Regions from separate parts of the Homo sapiens genome. Here region 1 is linked to region 2. The links come from fine-mapping of genetic effects on gene expression. A gene starts in region 2. The other region holds a variant in brackets. All regions are shown on one strand. Distances are from middle to middle.

Region 1 (5,368 bases), 51 kb before region 2:
TCTGTTAACTTTTATTGTTGTACCTGGGGATTGAGCAAGTGAGTAAATAATACTGTTGGAGAAGGGAGACACCAATACAGAACCGAGGAAGACAAGGAAGAAGCCTGTGGGGTAGGATGGGATGGGATGGGAATTAGAGGTGTATCATACATATAAATCATGTATCAAGGAAAATTTCCTGCCCTGGGATTAGGGGGAACTAGCAACATGTGCTTGACTGGATTTCAGAATTGCTATAAATGAGTGACTGCTGCTTCCTTTTTCCCCGTTTGAATGGAAGTGTCTATAGTAGTTGTTCAGTCCCTGTTTCATCACTGACTGTTGGCAGCAGGGAAGAAACAATTTTTCAGCTCACAGGCCTCTAGTTCAAGAGGAGGTGCACCCAAGGAGCTGCACCCAATAAACCATACCTGAGGAGCCTATTTCTTTTGTTTTCTTTCCTTTTTTTTTTTTTTTTTTTGAGGCAGGGTCTCTGTTGTCCAGGCTGGAGTGCAGTGGTGCATTCTTGGCTCACTGCGACCTCTGCCTCCCAGGCTCATCCTTCCACCTCAGCCTCCTGAGTAGCTGGGACTACAGGTGTGTGCCACCTTGCCCAGCTAATTAAAAAGATTTTTTTTTTTTTTTTTTTGTAGAGATGAGGTTTTGCCATGTTACCCAGGCTGGTCTTCAACTCCTGGACTCAAGCGATCCACCTGCCTCGGCCTCCTAAAGTGCTGGGATTTCAGGTGTGAGCCACTGTGCCCAGCCCGAAGAAGCTTTATCTGATCTGAACCTGATTTAGATAAGGAGGTCCTGGACTTTGTTCCAATGCTGCAGAGAGTGAGACTTCTGTGGGGAGAGGAGTGTCCTTTGCATTTGGGAAAGATGTGAACTACTGTGGCCAGAGGGTGAACTATGGTAGATTGCTTCTAAAGATGGGAGCAGCAATGTTTCTTCCCAAGCAACATTCTCCTTTGAAATGTGACTTTGCCACCCATCGCATCAAGAGGTAAGGTCTATTCTCCCTCCTTCTGAATCTGTCCCTGTGACTTGCTTTCACCAATAGATTGTGGCAGAAGTGACAGTGTGCAAGTATGAATGGGGTCTGCCAGTACCATGTGGAGCAAAGGGAAGCATCCTCATGGATGATGCCTGAATTCTTGATCCACAGAATAGTGAGCAATAAAATGTTTTTTTCTTTTTAAGCAGCTAAGCTTTGAGGTCATTTGTTACACAGCAATAGATAGCTAATACACCATCAAAGAGTTCTGGGGTCATTTCAAAACAACTCAGGAGGCAAATTGAGGAGTTTCTCACTAAAAGTGGGGAACTTGCACATGCCTGTAATCCCAGCTACTCGGAGGCTGAGGCAGGAGAATCGCTTGCACCCAGGAGGAGGAGGTTGCAGTGAGTCAAGATGACGCTACTGTACTCCGGCCTGGGTGACAGAGTGAGACTCTGTCTCAAAAAAAAAAAAAAAAAAAAAAAAAGAAAAAGTGGGCAACTCAAGCATCAATAAAGGTATTAACTGCAATGGTTTGTAGCATGCTACGTATATTTAAATATGTGGGTTCAAGATAATTAAATTAAAAAATCCCTGGTTACCTTTAGAGGATATTGGGACATCAATTCATTATTTTGAACATTGCTAAATAAAAAAACAAGCATTTATCCTATTTTTTGTACAACCTGTATTTCAAGGTAACCGAATACTGTTAAAGAGAAGCTATTTGCAGAATAATTCTGACCAATAATTATGTAAAAAAAAACCTGAATCTCATCATTTTGCAACCTCTGATGATATCACGGATTTAGGTATTGCTAAAACCATCAGGTGATAGATGATCAGGCTGATAACACGTGCACCTGCTGCCAACCTTAACATAAAAAATAATACTAAATTCCCCTGTGAAGCCTGCATGTGCCCCAAAACCCCCAAATCAAAACAAACCCCTCAAAACCTGAGTTAAAGCAAGCTTCTAGATCTAACTTCTAGCTTACAAAAAATGAGAGGAAGAGAGGACTATACCACTAAGAAAATGCAACCAGAAAATTCCAGATTGCAAAAAATGTAATAGGACCAAAACCCTGAGTTCTTCAATAAATACATGACAATTTATAGCTTAAAAGAGACATAGGGACAGGAGAGCCAAATGCAGTGTGTGGAACTTGTTTAGATCCTGATTTGAACAAATCAACTCTAAAAAGACTTATGAGACAGTGGGGAGAATGTGAACTATGATGGGGTATCTGATGGTATTAAGGAAGTATTAATTTTTTTTTTTTTTAGTGTAGATATAGACTTTTAAAGGTAAAAAGAAAGAATAAAGATGGAGGGTGTGATAATCCTATGAAGTGTCTGGGTTTGGGTCCTGAGGGCAGCCAATTACATCCCAGACTCACTGGCAATCAACAGTCCAAGCCAGGGTCCCATCAGCTGAATCCTGAGGTGGGGATGCTTCAGTCTTTACAGAACAGGGTCAAGGAAGAGTCCAGAAACCGCCGTCATTGGCTTCATGAAAACCGAGCACGTCTTTGAGATCTTTTTCAAATTCTGCCTCTAAGTCAAGTCCTACCTGGCCAAAGTCAGAAGCCTGAAAGAGAAAAAAGCAAACAAACACATTGAAGGATGAAGGATTACAGCCATCAAATCACTCATACTTTTTTTTGTGTTTTTGTTTTTGAGTCAGGGTCTTTCCCCGTCACCCAGGCTGTGGTGCAGTGGCACCGTCATGGCTCACTGCAGCCTTGAATTCCTGGGCTCATGTGATCCTCCCACCTCAGCTCCTGAGAAGCTGAAACTACAGGCACATGCCACTATGCCCAAAGTTTTAAAACATTTTTTTCTCTTTCAGAGATCGGGGTGAGGAGGCCTTGCTATGTTGCTCAGGCTGGTCTCAAACTCCTGGCCTCAGATGATTCCCTCACCTCGGACTCCCAAAAAGCTGGGATTACAGATGTGAGTCACCATGCCCAGCCTCACTCTTATTTTTTTAGGAGCCCAGCAGTAAGGCAGAATGGATGGGGAGATGCTGCTACTAAAATGTTGAAAAGCATGAGACTCCAGCTGGTTGTTAATTTCCACCTGACAGGCGATTTAGACTGAAGGGTTAGTTTTGATCATGGCAAATCTGAGCATGATGCAAAATAGCTTAACAATTTTTGTAAATGCATTTCTTGGAAGCCCACTCGCTGAGGAAGGATGACCCTCTGTTCTCCAGGACTACGGATATGCCAGGCACTGAGTGGCTCTCTGGTCAACCCTTTCTCCCTGCAGCTCCATGA[A/G]TGGGTACCAGTTTACAATCTGTGGTTTGTGAACATGCCAACTCCTGGCATGGAAGAAGGGAAGGAAGCTGGGTGGAGATGAAAATCTTCCTTAGGTACCTCCCAAGAAATATCTGTACAAGTGAGGATAAAAATCAGGAAAAACCAAAGTTACAAATGTCTGGGATTGCAGGATAGCTCAACCAGCTGTCCCTCCCTAGTAAAGGAGGATGAAACCAACATTGGATCTGAAGGCAATTCCAGATGTTTGAGTCCAATGAGAAATTTATGTGTAAAAATATGCAAGCCTGATTATCCAGGAAGTTTAATTGATTTTATGTTGTTTACTTATTTATTTTCATATTTCTGAGGCAGGAAGAACAATGTAGGCATAAACTGCCTTTCCTTCCAGTTTGAACAAAGAGGCTGGATGCCATTTACTGCTCTCGTTGGGAGCGAGCTGCCGATCTGGGAACAGAGCATGGTTTTTTTCAGCTTCTGTTCCAGAGATCCCTCCCCTGTCCTGCTTGCTGTTCTTTTTGCCACTCACTCCTTGCCTCCAGGAATGCCGAGGTGGTTTTTTTTCTGTAATCCTTGTCTTGTTTGAGCTCTCCCCAGGCTGAAACTGAGTGTAATACTTGCAAAATTCTGCTGTCCCAGAAATTAGGGGAAAGTAGAAAAGACGCAAAAAGGAAGCAGGAAATGCTCTTTACCTTGTAAAATGTTTTATGGTTGCGAAACATCAGGCGCATGTCTCGCACAAACCATGCCACCGTGTACATTTCCGTAATCAGCCTTTCCTTAACCAGGTCCAACCACATTGCTTCCTGAAAGGGCTCACCGTAATCTCGAATCTTGGGGACAAAGCCACCAGAGGTGACGTTAGCACAGCTGTCATCACTGGAATGGATCCAACTTAAATACAATCCAAGCCTTCATTTCCAGGGTCATAATGATAATACCATTTGACCTCTTTAAGCCAGCTATTGTTCTAGGCACTAGATAAACTAAATTCTAAGCCAAGTATATGAATATGTAATCTCCACATTTATGGGTACCATAAATAATAATGCCCATTTCATAGATGAGGAAACCGAGGGATGGAGAGGTCAAGGAACCTACCCAAGATGTCTCAGCAAGAAAGTGGTAGAGCTGAGATGGGAACCCACACAGTTTGGCATCTATGACTCTTTTTTTTCTTTTGAGATGGAGTCTTGCTTTGTCACCCAGGCTGGAGTGCAGTGGTGCGATCTTGGCTCACCGCAACCTCTGCTTCCTGGGTTCAAGCGATTCTCCTGCCTCAGCCTCCTGAGTAGCTGGGATTAGAGGTGCCTGCCACCATGCCTGGCTAATTTTGTATTTTTAGTAGAGATGGGGTTTTGCCATGTTGGCCAAGCTGGTCTCAAACTCCTGACTTCAAGTGATCTGCCCGCCTTGGCCTCCCAAAGTGCTGGGATTACAGGCGTGAGCCGCTGAGCCCAGCTGGCATCTGTGACTCTTAATCTCTAGTAGGAAAGACATTCTTCCTAAAGAGAAGATGAAACAGATACACAGGAGGAGAAGCAACTTGCCCGGTATCCCAGAGCCCGTGAGCAGTGGGGTGGAGTTTGAACCAGGTAGTCCCTCTCCAGAGTGTGCAGCAAAATCCCTGCTGCCCCGCTCCACTGCTGCCACGCTGCCCTTCTCTTCTGTTCTCCAGCTTCCTGAGCAAACTGCAGCACCTGCCAGATCAGCCCCCAAATTTCTCCAAATGCATTTTATGCAAGAGAACCGTAAAATGTGACTTACATTAAATGGGATGCCCGTAAAAAAGGAGCTTTGTGGATGACAGTAGGCCTTCAAGAGGAGGAACTCACATTTCTGTAAAATGTGAAGAGGGCTTGAAAGTGAAATGCAGCTTAGAAACAGTGAAGCCAGGCGAGTGTCTAGACATGCACACGGATGGGGCAGCCAAGCCCAGTCAGCATTCCAGCCATGCTTCCCAAGGCGCACAGGGTGTGTGGGATTTTGTTTAGACTCTGAGTTTGGGCATTAAATCGTCATCCTTTAAAGGGAGACATTGAAGGCTCCCTTTGGTACATTGCCCTGACCCTGTGCCTGTTTGTGCTTCTCGTGTGAGAAGGGA
Region 2 (5,366 bases):
AATGACATTCTTGACAAATTGTCAAGAAAAGGAAAAGCACTAACAAAACATTCAATCAACTTGACAGTTTTTAACAAACAGAACAAACATGGATTCCACTTTTCCAACTTCATTTTGTGTTGAACAGAAAAGTAAATCGTAATTAACAACTGTTTACAGGGATTTAATCCCAGTGGCAGATTAAGCACCCTAGTCTCTTTCTCCTCATTCCCCAATTTTTTTAACTTGGCAGAAAAAAATACTCATGAAAAGAATAATCCGCAATCGCATAGGAAAACAAGAAAAGATGCCATTGAGAGTCTGTGGTGGTAAAGAAGTCTTGGAAGATAGAGAACAGATAGGAGAGAAATCTACTATCCACAATATGCACAGGGGAAGGAGATAGTGCAAAGATCAGTGCAAAGTCAGAGAAAGGCAGAGTAAACATATACTAAGAAGAGGAAGGGGTCTTGGAGGCTCCTTTTAGAACAATTCATTATACAGCAGCGCTCAGAACAGGAAGTCTAGAGCTTCCTCATTCTTCATCTGTCATGAGTCCCAAAGATGAAAGGGAGGCACAGAGAGGTTTAGTAACTCACCCAAGGTATTCAGTGGCAAAGCAGAGCTTGTCTGACTCTAAAGCCCTGTTTCTTTCTATGCAAGATACTACATCTCATATATGACTGTTCAGATTTTTATTATGTAAAGAGATTTTGCAAACGAATAAGCAAAAGACAAACATCCAACTAGAAAATAAAAAAGCAAAATACATGAACAGAGAGTGATAAAAGAATAAGCCAAATGTGCAATGAATAATACGATAAGCATGTTAACTAGCTAGTAGAAAGCATAAAGAAGGCCAGGCATGGTGGCTCATGCCTGTAATCCCAGCACTTTGGGAGGTTGAGGTGGGCGGATCAGCTGAGGTCAGGAGTTCGAGACCAGCCTGGCCAACATGGTGAAACCCTGTCTCTACTAAAAATACAAAAATTAGCTGGGCGTGGTGGTGCACATCTGTAGTCCCAGTTACTCAGGAGGCTGAGGCAGGAGAATCGCTTGAACCTGGGAGGTGGAGGTTGCAGTGATCTGAGATGGTGCCATTGCACTCCAGCCTGGGTGACAGAGCGAGACTCCGTCTCAGAAAACAACAACAACAAACAACCAAAAAAAGTGTAAATGAAGACAATTTGATAACATATTTGTCTATCAAATTGGCCAAGATAGAAAATAATAGTAATAATCTCAGACACTGTGAGTGGGAAGGTCAACAGGTCCAAATGTTCTGAAGGCTGATTTAGTAATCAGTGTCAAATGTCCTAAAACATGTGCTCCTTTGAATTTCCACTTCTAATAATTTATTTCAAGGAAATAATCATGTATTTAGAGAAAATATATAAAAAGTTCATGATACACTAGAGACGAAATTAAATGTACTCTCATTTTTTTCTTTTCCACCAGCTTCCCAAGTACCTCTAGTCATTTACACAATGGATAACAGATGAGCCGCCTATTGCGGGCACTGAAGGATCAGAGCTTAGGTGAGGGTAGAGGGCAAATCTCGGCTCCATTCACAATAACAGGCTGGACTCTGGCGAAAAAAAGAGGTGTCAGTGTTCCCTCCATGTGCCCCCTTTTAACAGTCTCCTAATAAGTACCACATGTCTGAGCTCTGAGAGAGCCTCAGAGTTTAAATAGTTGAACTCCACCCTGCAGCTGCTGCCGCGAAGTTAACTCTAAGAGCTGCAGTCACCAAGAGCGAAGAATAAAGCAGCAAAGACAGAAACTCACCTGGACTTTGAGTTTGTCGTTCCTGCCCCTTTCCAGGGGCTGGGACAGGGATCACTCCTCAAGATTGGGAGAGTTACAGGGAGATGCTAGCAGGCAAAACAGGAAGTCTGTGCTTTGACAAACGCAGTAAGGGGCCGGGCTTCCGAGAAAAGAAAAGTGAAAGTTTTCGGAGTTTGCCAAGCCGGAAGCTGAAGGCAGGTCGGTGCCTGCAGCCTCTCTCCACCTCCTCATGGGCACTTGTGAGGCTCCCAGGACGTCTTGGCAGTTGGGGTTTGGGGGAGGGCGTGTTGCCAGTTGGGATCAGCCCAGAGAGGGAGGTATGGGAGGAGGAGGCATAAGGGTACAGCCCCAGCGGCAATAGGAACTGGGAACTCAGCGTCCAAATGCTTCCCTAACCACATCTATTTTCCCATGACTTGTCCTCATTCTGTACATTTTAGGTTGATGAAAATGTTCTCAAACTGGATTGTGGTGATGTTTACATAACTGAATGAATTCACTGGAATTTATCCAGTGTGTTATCAAACTCTAACAACACACAAAAAAACAAAGAGAATGTGCCAGAAATGCCTAGAACTTGTCAGGATAAGATTATTACAGGAAGAAATTGAAATGAAAGGGAACCTGCACATGAACTGGAATTGTGCAGAGGCAGGCAGACCTCCAGGCAGAAAAATGGCTGAGAGCTGGGCAGGTAGTTGGGAGCCAGGAGTCTGAGGCAGAACTGGGACCTGCTGATTCCAGAGAGCAGTAACTCAAGGGCTGGCAGGGACACCCCTTCTCATGCCCCTTTTAAAGATCCCTAATGTACATTGACATGTGGGGCCTATGAAAAATCCTAAACTATTGGCCAGGCACAGTGGCTCATGCCTATAATCCCAGGACTTTAGGAGGCCAAGATGGGAGGATTGCTTGAGCCTAGGAGTTTGAGACCAGTCTGGGCAACATAGTGAGACCCCATCTCTACAAAAAATAAAAAAATAAAAAATTAACTGAGTGTGGTGGCATGCACCTTGTAGTCCTAGTTAGTGAGGAGGCTGAGGCTGGAGACTTGCTTGAGCCCAGGAGTTCAAGGCTGCGGTGAGCTATGATTGCACCACTGCACTATAGAAATCTGTGTAACTTTGGGCCAGGCTCGGTGGCTCACGCCTGTAATCCCAGCACTTTGGGAGGCTGAGATGGGTGGATCACAAGGTCAGGAGTTTGAGACCATCCTGGCCAACATGGTGAAACCCCATCTCTACTAAAAATACAAAAATTAGCCAGATGTGGTGGCGGGAACCTGTAATCCCAGCTACTTGGGAGGCTGAGGCAGGAGAATTGCTTGAACCCAGGAGGTGGAGGTTGCAGTGAGCCGAGATCGCACCACTGCACTCCAGCCTGGGTGACAGAGCAAGACTCCATCTCGAAAAAAAAAAAAAAAAAGAATTCTATGTAACTTTGATTAAATCAATAATTCTCAAATGTATTTGACCCACAAGTTCCCCTACCAGGACATCCACAAACTCCTCAGATAAAAGATGGGAGACATGGATCTAAAGTTTAAGAAGCTTTGAAACCAAGGCTAACTGCATAAGAGCAAGCCCTTCTATGCAGGCACAAACAGCATATCCCACCCTAGTATGTACAGAATAGCAGACCCGGCCTTGCGGGTAATGGCTGTGGGTGAAACAGAGGCATGGAAGCCACAGCCAGGAAAAATTCAATGCTAACAGCTGAGGAGAGGGTGCATTGATGCCTCAGCATGCAGTAACATACAGCGCTGTGATGCAGGGGATGGCGGTGGTAAAGGAATTAAGGTTATTTTATGCAAATGTCACATGTCACTTACCTGAAGCCCCTCCCCATCACCTGGAAAGCCCCTTCATGGGCATCTGAGGATCCTGGCAGCAAGAACTTCTTCCTTTAGATCTATTCAGAGATACACCAGGCAAATGCAAAACAAACAAACAAAAGTAAAGCAGGAGTGGGAAAATAAAGTCAATGTCAAATCAGGCAAAAATTGTTACATGAAAAAAAGACAGCTGCGAATGAGGATGAAAGATGTTTATTCTAAGCCATATATGCTTGGCTGGGCACAGTGGCTCAGGCCTGTAGCTTAGCTAGCACTTTGGGAGGCTGAGGCAGGCAGATCACTTGAGGCCAGGAATTCAAGACCAGCCTTGCCAACATGGCAAAATCCCGTCTCTACTAAAAACACAAAAAAATTAGCTGGGCGTGGTGGCACATGCCTGTAATCCGAGCTACTCGGGAGGCTGAGGCATGAGAATCGCTTGAACTCAGGAGCTGGAGGTTGCAGTGAGCTGAGACTGCGCCACAGCAGTTCAGCCTGAGCAACAGAGTGAGATCCCGCCTCAAAAAAAAAAAAAAAAAAATGCATGCTTGAGAACATGGTAATAATGGGAAAACGTCACCTGTTAATTCACATGCTAGTGATTATGTACTGAGATAAATTATACATAATTCTTTTTAGCTCCATTTTATTGAGGTATAAAATTTATTCATTGTAATGTACATTTTACCAAATGTAGTTACTACACCAGTCAAGATGTAGACCATTTCTAGGCCTGGAGAGTCGCTTGTGCCTATAATCCCAGCATTCTGGGAGGTCAAAGCAGGAGGATCGCTTGAGCCCAGGTGTTTGAGACCAGCCTGGACAACAGAGCAAGACCTCGTCTCTACAAAAATACATTTTTTTAAATTAATTGGGCATGTTGGCATACACCTGTGGTCCCCGCTATCAGGGAGACAGAAGTGGGAGAATTGCTTGAGCCCAGGAGGTCCAGTCTCTGGTGAGCAGTGACAGAGTGAGACCCTGTCTCAAAAAAAAAAAAAAAGATACAGACCATTTCTGTTACCCTAGAAAGTTCCCTGTGACCTTTGCAAACAATCCCCTCCTTAAGGCCAGCACCAGGCAACCACTGATCTGCTTTCTATCACCACAGATTAGTTTCGTGTGTATTAAAGTTTTTTTTTTTTTTTTTTTTATCAATGAAGGCACATGGAATGCATTTTTGGTGTATGGCTTTCTTTTCCTCATCATCATGCTTTTGAGATTCATCTCTGTTGTTGTGGGTCAGTAATTTATTCTTCTTTAGCAGGTATGCTAGCCACCAAGATCCTGCTCATCCTGTCTGATCAGCATGATGTCATCAATCAGTCTGACTTTTTTTTTTTTTTTTGAGACAGAGTCACGGTCTGTCTCCAGGCTAGAGTGCTGTGGCGCAATCTTGGCTCACTGCAACCTCCGCCTCCCAGGTTCAAGTGATTCTCTTTCCTCAGCCTCCTGAGTAGCTGGGACTACAGGCACGCATCACCATACCTGGCTAATTTTTGTATTTTTAGTAGAGATGGGGTTTCACCATGTTGGCCAGGATGGTCTTGATCTCCTGACCTCGTGATCTGCCTGCCTCAGCCTCCCGAAGTGCTGGGGTTATAGGCATGAGCCACCATGCCCAGCCCAGTCTGACATTCTATGGGATGTCCAGGTGATCCAGATATCTTTCAACTATATTATGACAAAGGGCAAGTGAGTCAATATAACCTGCCTGGACTGCCTACTTTCTTAACCTAGTCCTCTGGCTTTCCCATACATTCTG

The links.
Region 1: its variant is fine-mapped to the expression of SP110 in monocytes (TOPMed, PIP above 0.99).

The regions. Positions count from the first base shown.
Region 1 is chr2:230,166,665-230,172,032 of GRCh38, forward strand. It overlaps SP110 (SP110 nuclear body protein), which reads right to left. Exons shown (of 19, transcript NM_080424.4): 17 at 5,032-5,103; 18 at 3,957-4,097; 19 at 1-2,573. The coding sequence ends at 2,460. Among named protein-coding and RNA genes, the nearest start is that of SP110, 51 kb to the right of the region's middle. The variant A/G (reference allele first, on the strand shown) is at 3,265.
Region 2 is chr2:230,218,107-230,223,472 of GRCh38, forward strand. It overlaps SP110 (SP110 nuclear body protein), which reads right to left and starts at 1,878. Exons shown (of 19, transcript NM_080424.4): 1 at 1,768-1,878. It also overlaps a transcript of SP140 not described here. RefSeq lists an enhancer at 1,607-2,086 and a silencer at 1,804-1,990.